2 linked regions of the Homo sapiens genome follow. Changing the gene in region 2 together with the main gene of any one other region gives a genetic interaction. Each region holds a gene or a part of one and is shown on either strand. Other genes may lie near its edges.

What was found. Genes that interact genetically often act in the same process or in processes that back each other up.
Region 1: changes in PRPF31 (region 2) and KRAS are lethal when combined (synthetic lethality), as found in Homo sapiens cells (3 studies listed by BioGRID, with this or other methods).

The regions. Positions count from the first base shown.
Region 1 is NC_000012.12:25,240,930-25,244,429, forward strand, and holds part of KRAS (GTPase KRas), read right to left. Parts: intron 1-3,500. UniProt on the Homo sapiens protein: Ras proteins bind GDP/GTP and possess intrinsic GTPase activity. Plays an important role in the regulation of cell proliferation.
Region 2 is NC_000019.10:54,128,984-54,134,296, forward strand, and holds the end of PRPF31 (U4/U6 small nuclear ribonucleoprotein Prp31), read left to right. Parts: intron 1-73; coding exon 74-202; intron 203-288; coding exon 289-387; intron 388-2,323; coding exon 2,324-2,449; 3' UTR 2,450-2,730; downstream 2,731-5,313. UniProt on the Homo sapiens protein: Involved in pre-mRNA splicing as component of the spliceosome. Required for the assembly of the U4/U5/U6 tri-snRNP complex, one of the building blocks of the spliceosome.

The DNA of each region.
Region 1 (3,500 bases), on a different chromosome or scaffold from region 2:
AAATGTGCACTTTCACAATTTGCCACTTCTGAATAGGACCCTCCTATCATCCCCTGTAACACACCACCAAGCCTTGGACTCCATTAAGCAGCTCCTGAGTGCATGCAAAGAAGCTCAGAGAGCCACACTGCTGCCTTTTAGTCCCTTCAACAAAGTAAGCTCAGTAAGTGTTAACAACTGAACCACCCTATTTTCTTATATACTGCCTCGTTTCCTTTCTTAGTTCACTATACTCACCTACTTAGTTAGGCCTAACTAATACAGACAGTAATCTTTATATTAATATTAGCAGAGAGCAAAAATGATACGAAATCAATCATATAAGACTTTTAAATAAAACGAATATATTTATAAATTGATGCCACCCATAATTTAAACAGCGAAACTACACAAACTTAGGATTTCACTGTTACTTGTTATAAAGCAAATAATTTGACCAGTAGAGGGCACTCACAAAAGTGGGGAGAGCTTCACAGCCTTGAAGAGAAATGATTTATAAAATTGCTGTGTGTCTCTGATTTTAAAAACAGAATGTTTTAATAGAAGACTGGAGTAAGCTAACATATCATTAACGTACAAAAGTTAAAGTTTAAATCTTTGTTATACTTGAAAATCTAACATAAACCTTATGTCAGGGACATGAATTTGACAATTTAAAGGATGTTTAAAGCTACAGGTTAACATATCAAGGTTTGGATCTTAACACCATTGAGGTTTGGGGTCAGATAACCCTGTTGTGGGGGCTTTCCCGTGCACTGCAGGAAGTTTAATATTAGGTTGGTGCAAAGGTAACTGCAGCTTTGCCATTTAAAGTAATAGCATCTACTCAATAGATGCCAGTAGCAGTACTCTCTCCCCAAGTTGTGGCAACCAAAAACATCTCCAGATGTTGCCAAATGTCCCCTGGAGGGCAGTCACCCAACCATCCCTCATTGATTACTAAAGATATATGTATAAACTCAGAAGAATAGCAGCTTACAAATTACATAAGGCTTTTCTTATACCAGTCTTCAGTATCAGTTTAATTTTACAAATTTTCTCTCTATAATCTACATACTTCATTCGTAGGTAAAATGAATTCTACAATGAACATGGAAAAATAAAAATAAAATAAAAATTAAAATAAACCTTGGTAAATAAATACTCTACAGCTCAGAACACTAAAGATGAAACAAACCAATCCAATGATTAATCTGGTCTTCCTTACTGAATAGGAAACTGTTCCATCAAAGAGGGGCATAATACTTGAACTGAATTATAAGTGCCACAATAAAAGCATGCTGATGTCAAACAATTAGAGCCTGGGAAAAAATACTTCCTGCTATATTTATTCTTACTAGCATATTATATACAGTAGATACTTAATATATATTTGGTAAGTGATCAACTAATCATTCTGATCTCTGTAACTACCTACATTTTTTTAAAACGAGACTTTTCCTCTTCCACCAAATTTTACCTTAGAAAAAAAACTTCAGGGTTTTGATAATAAATGATCTCTGAACTATAAAGGTATATATTTCTAGCCAAGTATTGTGTTTGGGGGCTATTTTGAGTTTTCAATAATCTTGCCCTAATAACGAGGTATTTCATTATCTCTTTAGTGGGCTTCATAAAAGATAACAATATATACTTCACAATACAAGTAAAGGTGATTATGTGCACAGCCTCGAATACAAACATACTCCATCTATGTGTCATACCTGAATGATTTTACATCATACCTCTGCCACTAAGTTGCCATTAGATAGCAGGCTAAGTTCAAATTTTGGTATACTTACAAATCTGAATTAGTCTCCATTAGTAAATATTTTCTTAATTTGAAAGATAGCTAATTTTCAGTTTTAAAAAGTTATACAAGAGTACAGTGCAAATTCTACTTAACTTGGTCTCAGAGAATTTAAATTGAAATCCTACCACTTATTAGCTACGTATCCTTAGATGAGTTACAACCTCTCAGAGACATTATTGAAAGAAACAATAGCCACCCTCCTTACTATCTCTTAGTGTAAATTTTGAAAAATCTAAATCACCAAAAAATACAGTATTACTTGATTTAAATTTTTAAAAAATTTATTTCCATTTTAAATGTAGAAAAACTGCTAATAATTCCAAAATGTGCAGTCATATCCTTTCTAATTTTCTCTCTGACCCACACGGATTGGTAAATACCAATCAAAACCTGCAATGGCAGTGAAATCCCCATATCCTCCTAAATTTTTAACTTTTTACAATAACATGGAGTCAGCATTTCCATTTAACCAACTATTTAACTACTAAGTTCTCCTGCCTTTCTTACAGTTTAACTACACCAAGAACTTAATGTAATGTGTCAGTTCCCTCAGAGACTCACTGTAACTTGGGAGATAAGAGATAATCTCAGATACCTTTTCCCAGGTGACTAAACTACGTCAGGGACCGTCAGTTTCAAAGTTCACAGGTAACCAATGCTTCCCAGAGTCAAGTCTTCTGGTTTGGCAGAAATCATAAGCAGAGTTATAGGTTTAAGTTTATAAACTTTTTCAGCCTTCCGCCCAAATAAAGGCTTAACTGTTAGCTTTATTTCTTCAACATTTATATTGCATTTTAACAATCATTAGCAAAAGGTTTCCTAACCCACTTTATCACATTCATGACGTCATGCTGTATATACTCATATAGCACTCATGACCTCTGATTGGAAACAAAGTGTAATGGAATTTCTCAGATTTTCAGGGAAGACAGACAGCATTTCCAGTAAAATCACCTTCCAAAATCCCAGGAAAACTTTCAGGCATAAAGTGAATTATATTAAAACTTCCTTTTACATCTGATTTAAATAGTAGAGTCTGCCAAGTAACCCTGAATTTGCAATACAGATTAAAATGGGTGCACTATTCAAACCTCTTCAAAGAAACAAAACTATAGTACACATTGAATTAACTTGTCAAAAGTAAATATACAGAGACTATTGCATAGGCAGTCTACTTCAATTAGACTGTTCCCCTTTACTGCTGTAAATTCTTAAAATTGGAAGCCAAATAAAGTTGTTTCTATGTTTAAATCAAATCTTTGCAAATAGGCATTATTTCTCCACTTTTTTATAGTACCAAAAATATGTGACGTTTCCTTATGATTAGTTATCTAATCAATTCTCCAGGTTCTAAACTGCATAAATATCTTCCCAAGGCCACCCAATGCCCTCAGAACTTGCCTCAGCGCAAAGTGTCTCTTCAAGACACTACACAGTACAGTACGTTAATAAGGCACTTTGACCTGTTCTAGATTTCACAGCTTGGAACTTGAAGAAAGTTCTTAGAAATTTTTCAGAACTGATTTTTTTAAATTAGTACACTAGATGTAGAATAAATGCTAAAGTATTAGGACTGCTTAACCCAGGGTAAAGAAGCCTAAGAAACAATCTAACAATATAGGGCTATTTCAAAGACAAGGCGATATGCTTATTTTCCATCTCCACTGATGTTAAATTTAACATGAAGATCCAAATTACATGTAAAATA
Region 2 (5,313 bases):
TGGAGGGGGTGCCTCGGTGGCTGGAGGGCAGGGCCTGGTCGCTGAACTGCAGGGCGCCTCCTCTCCCCCCTAGATCGAGGAGGACGCCTACCAGGAGGACCTGGGATTCAGCCTGGGCCACCTGGGCAAGTCGGGCAGTGGGCGTGTGCGGCAGACACAGGTAAACGAGGCCACCAAGGCCAGGATCTCCAAGACGCTGCAGGTATGGGCCAGACCCAGGTGGGGCTGGGGACCGAGGGACACAAGGTGGGGGGAGCCCAGATCGCAGCCTCCCTGTCCTCCCCACAGCGGACCCTGCAGAAGCAGAGCGTCGTATATGGCGGGAAGTCCACCATCCGCGACCGCTCCTCGGGCACGGCCTCCAGCGTGGCCTTCACCCCACTCCAGGTACCTCCCCTGGGCCGGCTCTGTCCCCAGCCCTGAGACCTTGGCAAGGCCCCTTGCCCTCTGCCCCTGTGAAGAAGGCCAGGATGAGTCTCCTCATGGGGCTGTTGTGGAGGGTGTGGTGACGAGGTATGCAGAGGACGTAGACAGCTCCTGGCACACAGGAAGAGGTTAGCAGAGACGAGAGCCCAGCGCTGAGCAGTCCTCGTGAGCACGCACTGCTTTAGAACCAGGCCCACAGCTGTGTTCAGGGCACCCAGTTCCTCTGTCGGGCTGTGAGCGGGTAACACTGCTCAGCCTCCAGGCCCTCCAGTTCAAAACGGCCAGGACGGTTAAGGTAACCTCAGGACCCCACTCGAGAAAGTTCCCGGCTAGGCGGGCTTGGATGTCAAGTGTGGGTCCAGGCCCCAGCCAGTCAGCAGTGAGCAGCGTGGAGCATGGCAGTCACCGCATCGTCGGAGCCTCGGTTTACCATCCACAGAGCAGGGCGAGCCTGCACCACGGAGGCGAGACAGCAGCGAGCTCATCTGCCCAGTCAGCGGGTGTCTACGCAGCACCTGCTGAGTTCTGTCAGTGTTCCCGGCTCTGGGGATGAAGCAACGAATGAGAGACAAGTCTTACCTTCTTGGAGCCAGTGGGTGGCCGGGCGCAGACAGCTCAGTAAGATGTCCAGTGTAGGAGAAGGCAGAAATGCCAGGCCGGGCGCAGACAGCTCAGTAAGATGTCCAGTGTAGGAGAAGGCAGAAATGCCAGGCCGGGCGCAGACAGCTCAGTAAGATGTCCAGTGTAGGAGAAGGCAGAAATGCCAGGCCGGGCGCAGACAGCTCAGTAAGATGTCCAGTGTAGGAGAAGGCAGAAATGCCAGGCTGGGCGCAGACAGCTCAGTAAGATGTCCAGTGTAGGAGAAGGCAGAAATGCCAGGCCGGGCGCAGACAGCTCAGTAAGATGCCCAGTGTAGTAGAAGGCAGAAATGCCAGGCCGGGCGCGGTGGCTCACGCCTGTAATCCCAGCACTTTGGGAGGCCGAGGCAGGTGGATCATGAGGTCAGGAGATCGAGACCATCCTGGCTAACACGGTGAAACCCCGTCTCTACTAAAAATACAAAAACTTAGCCGGGCGTGGTGGCGGGCGCCTGTAGTCCCAGCTACTTGGGAGGCTGAGGCAGGAGAATGGCGTGAACCCGGGAGGCGGAGCTTGCAGTGAGCCGAGATCGCGCCACTGCACTTCAGCCTGGGCGACAGAGCCAGACTCTGTCTCAAAAAAAAAAAAAAGAAGGCAGAAATGCCAGGGAGGGGAGGAGGTGGAAGGTAGGAGGTGGGACAGGGGAGGCTCTCGTTTCGGAGCAGCCAGGGAGGGCCTCTTTGAGAAGATGAGGCCAGTGGCTGTGCCTTTCCAAGCCTCCCCTCCTCCATCATGAGGTGCTCAGGACTGAAAAGAACGCACAGGAAGCACTTGGCACTGGGCTCACCATTAGAGCCCAATGACTGGGTCCTGTTATTATTTTTAGAGACGGGGGCTCGCTCTGTTGCCTTGAAAATATTTAGGAAGTGCCAGCCAGGTGTTGGCTCCCATTGCTGCCACTATGATCGTCAGTGGTGTTGGTGTGATTTGTGCTAGGACCTCGGGCCAGCCATGTCCCCCAGGGACTCAGTTTCCTTATGCAGAAACTGGGCAGGATTGGCTGTCCTCAAGCATTGGTTGTTTTTAGCACCCCTGAGGAACTTCGTACAAATCCAGGCGCCCTGGTTCCTCCCCACCCTCTCCCTCTAGACCCACTGAGTCAGAATCTCCCAAGACAGGGCAACTCCAGGGACAGGCAAACTGTCTCATGCCCACCAAGGCCTGAGTGCCATGGGGAAGGGCCTGGGGGGCTCTGATGGGTCACAGTTGGGGCCTTCTCCTCACCTAACCCATCATCCTCTCTCCCTCACCTGCCCAGGGCCTGGAGATTGTGAACCCACAGGCGGCAGAGAAGAAGGTGGCTGAGGCCAACCAGAAGTATTTCTCCAGCATGGCTGAGTTCCTCAAGGTCAAGGGCGAGAAGAGTGGCCTTATGTCCACCTGAATGACTGCGTGTGTCCAAGGTGGCTTCCCACTGAAGGGACACAGAGGTCCAGTCCTTCTGAAGGGCTAGGATCGGGTTCTGGCAGGGAGAACCTGCCCTGCCACTGGCCCCATTGCTGGGACTGCCCAGGGAGGAGGCCTTGGAAGAGTCCGGCCTGGCCTCCCCCAGGACCGAGATCACCGCCCAGTATGGGCTAGAGCAGGTCTTCATCATGCCTTGTCTTTTTTAACTGAGAAAGGAGATTTTTTGAAAAGAGTACAATTAAAAGGACATTGTCAAGATCTGTCCTTGGGGAGTGATCATTTTTCAAACAGCCGGGGCAACTAGAAGAATCAGAGCTGTGGAGCTTTGAGAAAAGAGCTTGGCCCTCGGGTCCAAGCGGTGTCTAGGCCCACTCCCTTCCCCGTTACTTTCTCGTCATGGGATCCCAGAAGGAAAAAGCCCTCTCCAACCCCCTGGAGAGCCGCAGTCACTTTGATAGCAAATGATGTGGCTGCCAACAGCCGCAGATCTCAGCGCAGGCCGACCGGGATTGCTGTCCACCTCAGGCCAGCCTCCTCACCTTTCCAAGCCTCCACACCTACGCCCAGGTGCCCAGGACTGGAAAGAATGCACAGAAAGCACTTAGCATGGGACTTGCCATCAGCGCCCTATAACCAGGTCCTGTTATGATTGGGTTTTTTAGAGACGGGGTCTCTGTTGCCCAGGTTGGAGTACAGTGATGCGATGAAGCTCACTAAAGCCTCAAACTCCTGGGCTGGGATTACAGGCATGAACCAGCACAGCTGGCCTCCTGGTTAATTTAAATTTTTTTTTTTTTTCTGAGGTGGAGTCTCGCTCTGTTGCCCAGGCTAGAGTACAGTGGTGCAATCTTGGCTCACTGCAACCTCTACCTCCCGGGTTCAAGCAATTCTCCTGCCTCAGCCTCCTGAGTAGCTGGGATTACAGGCATGTGCCACCATGTCCCGCTAATTTTTATAGTTTTTAGTAGAGACAGGGTTTCGCCATGTTGGTCAGGCTGTTCTCGAACTCCTGACCTCATGATATGCCCACCTCAGCCTCCCAAAGTGCCAGGATTACAGGTGTGAGCCACCACCCCAGCCCCATTTTTAAATTGTTTATAGACAGGGTCGTGCTCTATTACCCAGGCTGGGCTTGAACTCCTGTGCTCAAGTGAGCTTTCCACCTCAGCCTCCCTAAGTGTTGAGATTACAGGCTTGAGCCGCTGTGTCTGGCCTCTTATTATTATTATTATTTTTTTTTTTGAGACAGAATCTCACTCTGTTGCCCAGGCTGGAGTGCAGTGGGATGATCCTGGCTCATGGCAACCTCCACCTCCCGGGTCCAGGTGATTCTCCTGCCTCAGTCTCCTGAGTAGCTGGGATTACAGGCGCCCATGGGTTTTGTTTGTTTGTTTGTTTGTTTGTTTGTTTGTTTTTCAGACGGAGTCTTGCTCTGTCACCCAGGCTGGAGTGCAATGACATGGTCTTGGCTCACTGCAAACTCCGCCTCCCAGGTTGAAGTGATTCTCCTGCCTCAGCCTCCCGAATAGCTGGGATTACAGGCGCCCGCCACCACGCCTGGCTAATTTTGTATTTTTAGCAGAGACGGGGTTTCACCATTTGGGCCAGGCTGGTCTTGAATTGCTGACCTTGTGATCTGCCCGCCTCGGCCTCCCAAAGTGCTGGGATTACGGGTGTGACCCACCGCGCCCGGCCGAGATGGGGTTTTACCATGTTGGCCAGGCTGGTCTCGAACTCCTGACCTCAACTAATCCGCCTGCCTCGTCTCCCAAAGTGCTGGGATTACCCTGTGCCTGGCCCAGCCTCTTATTTATAACCAGTGTTGAGGGACTGTGTGGAGCCGGGCACAGGCGAAGCAGGCAGGCTTCCTGCCCTGGTAGGACCTGGTTGCTATAAAAGTCCTGCCAGGTGAGCAGAAGGAGCACACTTCCCCTCCCCTGACCTCCAGTCACTGAGTCTCGGGAACCGGGGCTCGGCCAGGAGCGCCTTTACTTGGACTGAGGGGAATGTGGCCTGCAGACAGTCAGGAGAGTTTCCAGGGGACAGCAGGGGCTGTCCTAGCGGGTGGCATGAAACCGTCTCCCTGGAGAGGTTAAGGAAGAGCAACTCCAGGGGTTCCATTTACTATGTGCTCCGGAGCTGGGCTACACGGTGGTACTAAGGAGGCAGCGCTAGTCACCTGACCTACAAGGTCGGGCTTCTGTTAGTTACCTAAGAGATGTTACCAGGACAAGCAGCAGCCTGGTGGGAAGATGATGCCTCCAGGTCTCTACCTCCTCTCTCTCTCCCTCCTTCTCTCCACCTCCCCTCTCTCTCCCTCCCTCTCTCCACCTCCCCTCTCTCTCTTCCTCCCTCTCCACCTCCCCTCTCTCTCTCCCTCCCTCTCTCCACCTCCCCTCTCTCTCTCCCTCCCTCTCCACCTCCCCTCTCTCCACCTCCCCTCACTCCACCTTCCCTCTCTCCACCTCCCCTCCCTCTCTCCACCTTCCCCTCTCTCCCTCCCTCCCTCTCTCCACCTTCCCTCTCTCCTCCCCTCTCCCCCTCCCTCCCTCTCTCCACCTTCCCTCTCTCCACCTCCCCTCTCCCCCTCCCTCCCTCTCTCCACCTCCCCTCTCCCTCCCTCTCTCTCCTCCCCTCTCCCTCCCTCCACCTCCCCTCCCTCTCTCCACCTCCCCTCCCTCTCTCCCTCCCTCCCTCCCTCTCTCCACCTTCCCTCTCCCTCCCTCCACCTTCCCTCTCCCTCCCTCCACCTTCCCTCTCCCTCCCTCTCCACCTTCCCTCTCTCCTCCCCTCTCCCTCCCTCTCTCCACCTCCCCTCTCTCCCTCCCTCCCTCCCTCTCT